Linked DNA regions of Homo sapiens. The protein of the gene in region 1 interacts with the protein of each later gene in a pairwise test. Each region holds a gene or a part of one and is shown in the gene's direction. Other genes may lie near its edges.

Evidence for each region.
Region 2: the proteins of POMT2 (region 1) and GLP1R interact in a protein complementation assay, tested with the Homo sapiens proteins (one large-scale study listed by BioGRID).

What each region holds. Positions count from the first base shown.
Region 1 is NC_000014.9:77,314,345-77,318,156, reverse strand, and holds part of POMT2 (protein O-mannosyl-transferase 2), read left to right. Parts: intron 1-3,812. UniProt on the Homo sapiens protein: Transfers mannosyl residues to the hydroxyl group of serine or threonine residues. Coexpression of both POMT1 and POMT2 is necessary for enzyme activity, expression of either POMT1 or POMT2 alone is insufficient.
Region 2 is NC_000006.12:39,083,030-39,086,841, forward strand, and holds part of GLP1R (glucagon-like peptide 1 receptor precursor), read left to right. Parts: intron 1-2,876; coding exon 2,877-3,044; 3' UTR 3,045-3,812.

The sequences.
Region 1 (3,812 bases):
CATCTCCAGGGTCCTGTGGTGTTCCTTCCCCAGATGCCAGGATTGTTTCTTTCCTTCCATTGCTACATAATGAGTGTGTCCTACCCTAGTAACTATAACTTCACCTTTTCTCCATTTATCCCCTACCAATACGCAGGCCTTCTAATATCCAATTGTTAGAAAATTGACAGAGGCCCATTATGTCTTCTACCTTGACACATGTGGGCCACTGTAGGGGGACTTTAAAAGCACTATACCCAACCAAATGATCATTAACTTTATGTTCTGGCACCAGGCCATTCCAACAAGACAATCTAGTGACTGAACTAGAATTAAGTCTGAATTACATAGATAGCCTCCTCCTCCCAGCTGATCTGGGCTTTCTGTAAGGGGGAAGAAAGATGAATCATGGCCAGAAATGGTCAGGGGAGAATCTCACATTTTCAAAATAGGTTTATATAACCCTCCACCCCTTTTTCCTGATCATTACCCAGTTGGTAGGCAAAAGGAGATGACCCATTTCTGAGAATGGCTGCCTTAGGTGACCAAACTGCTTCAGTAAGGTTTGCAGACCAGGAGGAGGTTAAAAACATAGAATCAAAAATCTTTTTGAGTTGATCTTTGAGGGAACTGTTCAGTACTTGACAATGTCATGCCTGTGGATGGTAGGGAGTGTGGGAGGTCCATCGAATACCTTGGCTATTGACTGTTGACACTGTTGGGTGGCCATTGCGACAAAAAGATATGCCAGTGTCAGACTGTAGATGGTTTGGAAAGCAGAAAACCTGGCAGTTTAGTTTCAAGGGCCACAGTGGTATACACAGAGTCAGATAATTGGACTGGAAAAGCAACATCAGCACTGTAAACTGAAAAAGTATCAGCAGTAGCAAGGTACTGATGAGAGCCTAGAGAAGGGAACAAAGTCCTAATGTCAATCTCCCAGGAGCAGGTGTGGTCAGTGCCCCTTGCAATGTGGCTTCCTTTACTGCAAGACAAGCAGGCCAACTTTTGGCAGGAGTCACAAGTCTGGCACGCAGTGGTGGCTTCTGCCTCAGAAACATGTAGTCCCTTACGTTGTGCCTAGCCCATGATGGTAGATGTTTCCACACCGGTTGCATGAATCCAGGTGGCTATGGCAGCAGTCTTGGTGGTGCAGGCTGGATCAGCAGTTTGATTCCAGTCAGTCTTACGAGAGTACCTGCCCTTAGTGTGGGCACCTACGTGAGTGATCCAGTCTGTCCTATTGGCAGGCAGCCATGATGTGTTTCCACACTTCTCAGCTTTCATCTCTCAGTATTTAGTCTTCCAAGTGGCATACCAAATGCTTCAATCCTTACTGCCATCAGCCATCCAGAGTTATCATTGGGGCTAAGTGCCTGCTGCTGCTTGGTGGGCAACATCAGCTTTTAACTCAGCCTAATCATTGGTGAGCCAGGCCTAAGCATTTACAGGAACCCCTGTGAATCAAGGGCCCTACTGAACAGCAGCTCGGCTTCAGGTAGCAGAGAAGGTTGTTTCTCCCAGAGTGGGAGCTGCCACTTCTTCACGTAAAACCAAGATGCCTCTAGGGCCAGGCTAGCTATACTCTTTTTTTTTTTTTTTTTTTTTTTTAGAGATGAGATCTGACTCTGTTGCCCAGTCTGGAGTGGAGTGGTACAATCATAGCTCACTGCATCCTCAAACTCCTGGGCTCCTCCTGTCTCAGCCTCCTGAGTAGCTGGCACTACAGGCACGTGCCACCATGTCCAGCTAATTAAAACAGATTTTTTAAGAGCTGAGTTCTCACTATCCTGCCAAGGCTGGTCTTGAACTCCTGACCTCAAGCCATCCTCCTGCCTCAGCCTCCTGAATAGCTGGGATTACCAGCTGTACTCTTGAATGTACTATTTCCATAGGATCAGTGAGGCTTGTTAAACCCTTCCCTTGTTATCAGTAGATTCCCATTGACCCACCCCAAAGTGGGAATACTAGGCCAGGGAGTCCTGAGGCCTTTATGGGTCTGGCAATCAATTTCAAAGTGTTGAGTAGTTAACTAAGGAGTTAATAGCTGTCCTTTTAAAAAGGGTGTGCTTGGTACCTATGTCCAGCAGGTGGCACTGTGATTCTGGTGCATGGCTCTCAGTACTCCAGCAGCCACAAAGTTGTTTTTTGTTTGTTTGTTTTTGTTTTTTGAGATTCTCGCTCTGTCGCCCAGGCTGGAGTGCAGTGGCGCAATTTCAGCTCACTGCAACCTCTGCCTCCTGGCTTCAAGCAATTCTCTGCCTTAGCCTCCCGAGTAGCTGGGATTACAGGCGCCCCTATCACGCCTGGCTACCTTTTTGTATTTTTAGTAGAGACAGGGTTTCACCATGTTGGCCAGGCTGGTCTCAAACTCCTGACCTCAGGTGATCCGCCCGCCTCGGCCTCCCAAAGGGTTGGGATTACAGGCATGAGCCACTGCACCCAGCCGCCACGAAGTTTTTAAGCCTGTGATTTATTTCCTTTCCCTTCCAGGGATGTAGATTTTTTTCTTCTGGACCACCAGGAGAGGACAGGATCACCTGTCTACACACAGCAGCCCTTGCCCAGGATAATCCTCTTCGACACTTATGGGATCAGTATCAGCTATACATTCAGCACTGGAAGCCACAGGAATAGTACATTGAAGAGGCCCAAAGAGCTCTGCCTGGAATGTCACTTTAACTTCCCTTCCCTACAGGGAGCGTGGCTCAAACATTACCAGTTTAATCTGGACACTTTTTCCCCTCGAACTAATGCGTCTAGAAGGCCTGCATCAGGGGCTATGGTGACAGCCAGCCAGAGATTTTGCCATTTCCCAGTCGGAGAGTGTGGCGGTGCTGGCTGCAGGGAGTGGGGAGAAGCTTTTTCTGCTCCTTTAGCTCTTCACTAGGCTTGCATCACGACCTCCCCAGTGTCGCTCCCTCAGGGTTAGGGGCCCTTTTCCCTTTAGTCCTTGTGCGCACTGCTATGGCTGTCCCTGCAGTCCTGAGTGTCTGCAGTAACCTCTGTGTGTAGTACATCCTTCCCCCCATGAGACATGGTAGGGTGGAGATGTGGGACCTCATATCCAGCAGAGCCCTGAGTTTGCCCCTCTCCTCCCTGGGGCTCTCCAGCATACTAGGATGGGTGTGTATGACCTTCAGTCCCCTTTAGGGACATGGAAACCTCAGCCCAACCTTTAATCATCTCAGTCTTTAATGCAGCTGAGGTTGTGGTAGAGTGGGAGGGATCCTGGGACATAAAGGGAGAGAGTGGCTCCGAGCCACAAAGCAAGTCATATTTATATTTACTTTTGGCTTGAGTACACAGCTCCCCCAAGGATCTTTCAGTGTTTCATTTTACTCAAAGTTCTATCTTATATAGCAGGGTCCTATTGCCGCACCGTTGGAGACTTGTTGATTGAGCAGCCATATCCATATTGCCTTTTGGCAGGGGCTGCTGGGCTTGCTGCCATTGTCATGATCACTCCTCTTCCTCCTTTTGCCCAGAGGACAGGGCAGTAACCAGGGTGACATTCAGTGGCTTGTTTCAATCCTACCTCTTTCCATCAGCCTCTCTAATAGTGGGACAGTGGGGGACTCTCACTACCCCATTGCCTGCCCATGGAGGCCCTCATTCTTTCTCTTACCAAAGACTATGTCTCTCCTCATCCTATGCTTGTCTCCACACTGTCAGGGGCTGTGATTTTATCTTAGCCTACTTATTAGCTAATAAGTTAGCCTGTCACTGTTTTTTGCATGCTGACAGAAGACAAAGTCTTGGGTCAGAGACAGAGGACTTTATTTCTCATGGCACAGCAAGTGGGATGTGCATCAGCATGTTGGCATCAGTTT
Region 2 (3,812 bases), on another chromosome or scaffold:
TGCACCACCTATGGCTGGCCCACCTTTGTAAGGGGATAGTACTTCTTTGCCCTTGGAAAAAAACTTGATCCTGAATCACCAGGGTTGCACCTCTCTGACCAGGCCTGGCTACAGACCCCAGCTAGCATCTCCCCGTGGATCTTCCAGGCTAGTGCCACGGGGTCCAGGAGACCCTGCTCAGAGAACGGGAGAACCTGTCTCCCTTCAGAGCACCAGCCAGTTCCTTTAAACCCACCCTGAGACTCCTCATGCCCTGGCTGCTCCAGGCACAAGGACAGATACATCATTGTCACTGGGCCACAAAAGACACATGTGGCTCTGGGGCTAAGGCCTCTGTCCACAAGAGCTGTTCTGCAGACCCAGGGTTGCCATGGCAATGCCAGGTACTTGTGACCTGAGGAGAAAAGATGGCTTGAATATTGGTTCTGTGTGGCTGCCAAGGCCTGCACCAGCTGCTGGTGGGCGTGAGTGGGGACAGGGAGGGGGAGGCCTGAAGGTGGTTTTGCTGTAGCTTGTGCCTGAGAGCCACAGTGAGGTGACTCAGAGCCCTGAGTGCTTGTCCCAGCCCTGCCACTGCCGAGCTGTGTGACCTGGGGCAAGTCATTTTGCCTCCCTTGCCTCTGTCTCCCCAGCCGTAAATGAAGGTGAATGAGCTTCCCAATTCACCCCGAATCCTGAGGCTGGCATGGTGCCTGCTGGAGAGGGAGGTCAGGAGGGGTGTGCTGCACTGCAGAGGTCGAGGGCAGGGATGAGGATAAAAATCCGATGGTGGAGGAGGAAGTGTGGTGGCCTAAGTCCCAGCCCAGGTGCTCAGAATCTGTGGTGTTGTCTTTGTGGGTTCATTTTCATAGCTGAGGAACAGAAGGAACCTGATGTGAGATGCTCATGCATTTATGTGTTCATTCATTTGGTTCATTTAAAACACATGTACTGAGCACCTGCTGTATGCTGGGCACTGTGCTAGGTTCAGGGATGCTGAGATGAAGAAGATGTGGTCCCAGCCCTCGAGGTGCTCCCAGGTGAGAGGTAGGAGATGGACCAGGGACAAGCAGGACTGCAAGAGCCACGCAGGCAGGAGGCCAGGGGTTAGGAGCCGGGCATTGGAATCAGGCCAGATCTAGGTTCAAATCCTGGCTGAGCGACCTGAGGAAATAAACACTCTGCACCTCAGTTTCCTCATCTTTAAATGTGGAGCTACTTTGCAGGGTTGATGTGAAAGTCAGCTAAGATAATTAATGGAAAATTCTGTGCATACAGTAAGTGCCCAATAAATATGGTGATTTTCAAGGACAATCGTGATTACAGGGGTCACAGCAGAGGTTCAGGAAAAGTGCTGAAGGAGATGGGGGCAGAAGGAGACACTGTGTGTCAGCACCCTGAGAAGTCCCATAGGTGTCCCTGAAACCTCTCTTTGGTCTCTGGTTTCCCGGAGGTGTGCCTCAGTTTACCATCTTTCCCCCCCTCTCCAGCGGAAGGGCTATGAAACAAGCCTGGCCTCCTGGCAGCTGCACAAGTGGGGGCCACCACTGGACTCAGGGCCCCCATCCCAGCTGTCAGCATGCGCTCCCTTCACAAAGACTCAGCCGGGCAGGGAGCTGGCATACAACAGGGTGGCTGTAGGTGGTGTCTGCTCAGCCTCCTTCCCTCCCCCACTCAAGCTTGGGTTCATGACGCTGCATGGGACACTGGCGTCATCCTGGCAGGCAGCCTCTGGGCCATCTCAACTCTACTCAGTGCAGAAAATGTTCTTTTAAGGGATGGCATGCAGCCATACCAGGCGTCTTGCTGGGCATAGCTGGATGGACGACAAAGGAGGAGAGGAGGGTTGTTTGCACAGGGGCTGGTGGGGAGATTGGCCCCTTATCCACAGCCGCTGGCATCTGGCTGTCTTGGTGACTTGGCCTAAAGGGAAGGGCCCAGACCCCAGACACTCTGGTGTGGGAAGGGTGGGGACTTCAAAGAAGCTCTGGAAAGCAAATGTATGGGAACATCACCCAGAAGAGCAGTCCAGACCCCCCAGGACTAGCTTGGCAGGTTCCAGCTAGGCCTCTCCAGGGACCAGAATCACTGGCCACCACCGGGAGCCACAGCATTGCCACAAACCCTCAAGGGATGGGGGCTCCACAGTGTTACTTGGATTTGTCTCTTTCTGCCCCAACAATCTGGCCCCCAAGCATCAGCCCTCCTGAGAGGCTTTTCCTGATGGGGAGGCCAGAGCCCAGCACAACAGGGATCCTGGCTGACTGAGCTCCCCTGGGCTGCACCCCCATGGTCACTGCAGTGTCTCTCTAGATGGCATCAGTTGAGAAGCCCTCACTGGCTGCCCCTTCCTCCCTGCTGTTTCCCGTCTCAGCCACATTCCTTCCTTCCCTCCCTCCTCCCCTGTGAGGTGCTGGGGCCTGGAGAGAAGCCCTCAGGGAGTTTAGAAGGGTCTGCTGTAGACACCAGGAAGGCTGGGGGTTGCCGTCCCCCTTCTCAAGCATCCAAGCTGAAACTGGACTGTGCGCTGTAAAGACAGAGTCTCTCTTCTCTCTCCCATCTCCTGTCTCCCTGTGTTTCACCCTCCCTCTCATTCTCTTCCGTTAAATAATACTGTGATGGATTGTAAAAGGTACTTAGCTGAATCACAGAGTTTAGAGATGGAAAAGACCAATTAGGTCATCAAGCTGATCTCTCTCCTGAGGAGCTGCAGAAAATAGGAGACAACAATAAACAATTTTATTGGGATATTAATTTAGGAGCCCGAAGGCCTTGACTTGTGTCTCTTAATATAATGCAGTGGATTTCTTCCCTTCCCCACTAATGTAATAGTGGGGCCATTTTGTTAGCCATTGGTTTGCATGATGGCTTTCGTTTCCCTCCTTTTCCCATGGAAGGTCCAGCTGGAATTTCGGAAGAGCTGGGAGCGCTGGCGGCTTGAGCACTTGCACATCCAGAGGGACAGCAGCATGAAGCCCCTCAAGTGTCCCACCAGCAGCCTGAGCAGTGGAGCCACGGCGGGCAGCAGCATGTACACAGCCACTTGCCAGGCCTCCTGCAGCTGAGACTCCAGCGCCTGCCCTCCCTGGGGTCCTTGCTGCAGGCCGGGTGGCCAATCCAGGTGGGAGAGACACTCCCAGGGACAAGGGAAGGAAGGGACACACACACACACACACACACACACACACACACACACATACATCCTGCTTTCCCTCCCCAAACCCATCAGACAGGTAAATGGGCAGTGCCTCCTGGGACCATGGACACATTTTCTCCTAGGAGAAGCAGCCTCCTAATTTGATCACAGTGGCGAGAGGAGAGGAAAAACGATCGCTGTGAAAATGAGGAGGATTGCTTCTTGTGAAACCACAGGCCCTTGGGGTTCCCCCAGACAGAGCCGCAAATCAACCCCAGACTCAAACTCAAGGTCAACGGCTTATTAGTGAAACTGGGGCTTGCAAGAGGAGGTGGTTCTGAAAGTGGCTCTTCTAACCTCAGCCAAACACAGAGCGGGAGTGACGGGAGCCTCCTCTGCTTGCATCACTTGGGGTCACCACCCTCCCCTGTCTTCTCTCAAAGGGAAGCTGTTTGTGTGTCTGGGTTGCTTATTTCCCTCATCTTGCCCCCTCATCTCACTGCCCAGTTTCTTTTTGAGGGGCTTTGTTTGGGCCACTGCCAGCAGCTGTTTCTGGAAATGGCTGTAGGTGGTGTTGAGAAAGAATGAGCATTGAGACGGTGCTCGCTTCTCCTCCAGGTATTTGAGTTGTTTTGGTGCCTGCCTCTGCCATGCCCAGAGAATCAGGGCAGGCTTGCCACCGGGGAACCCAGCCCTG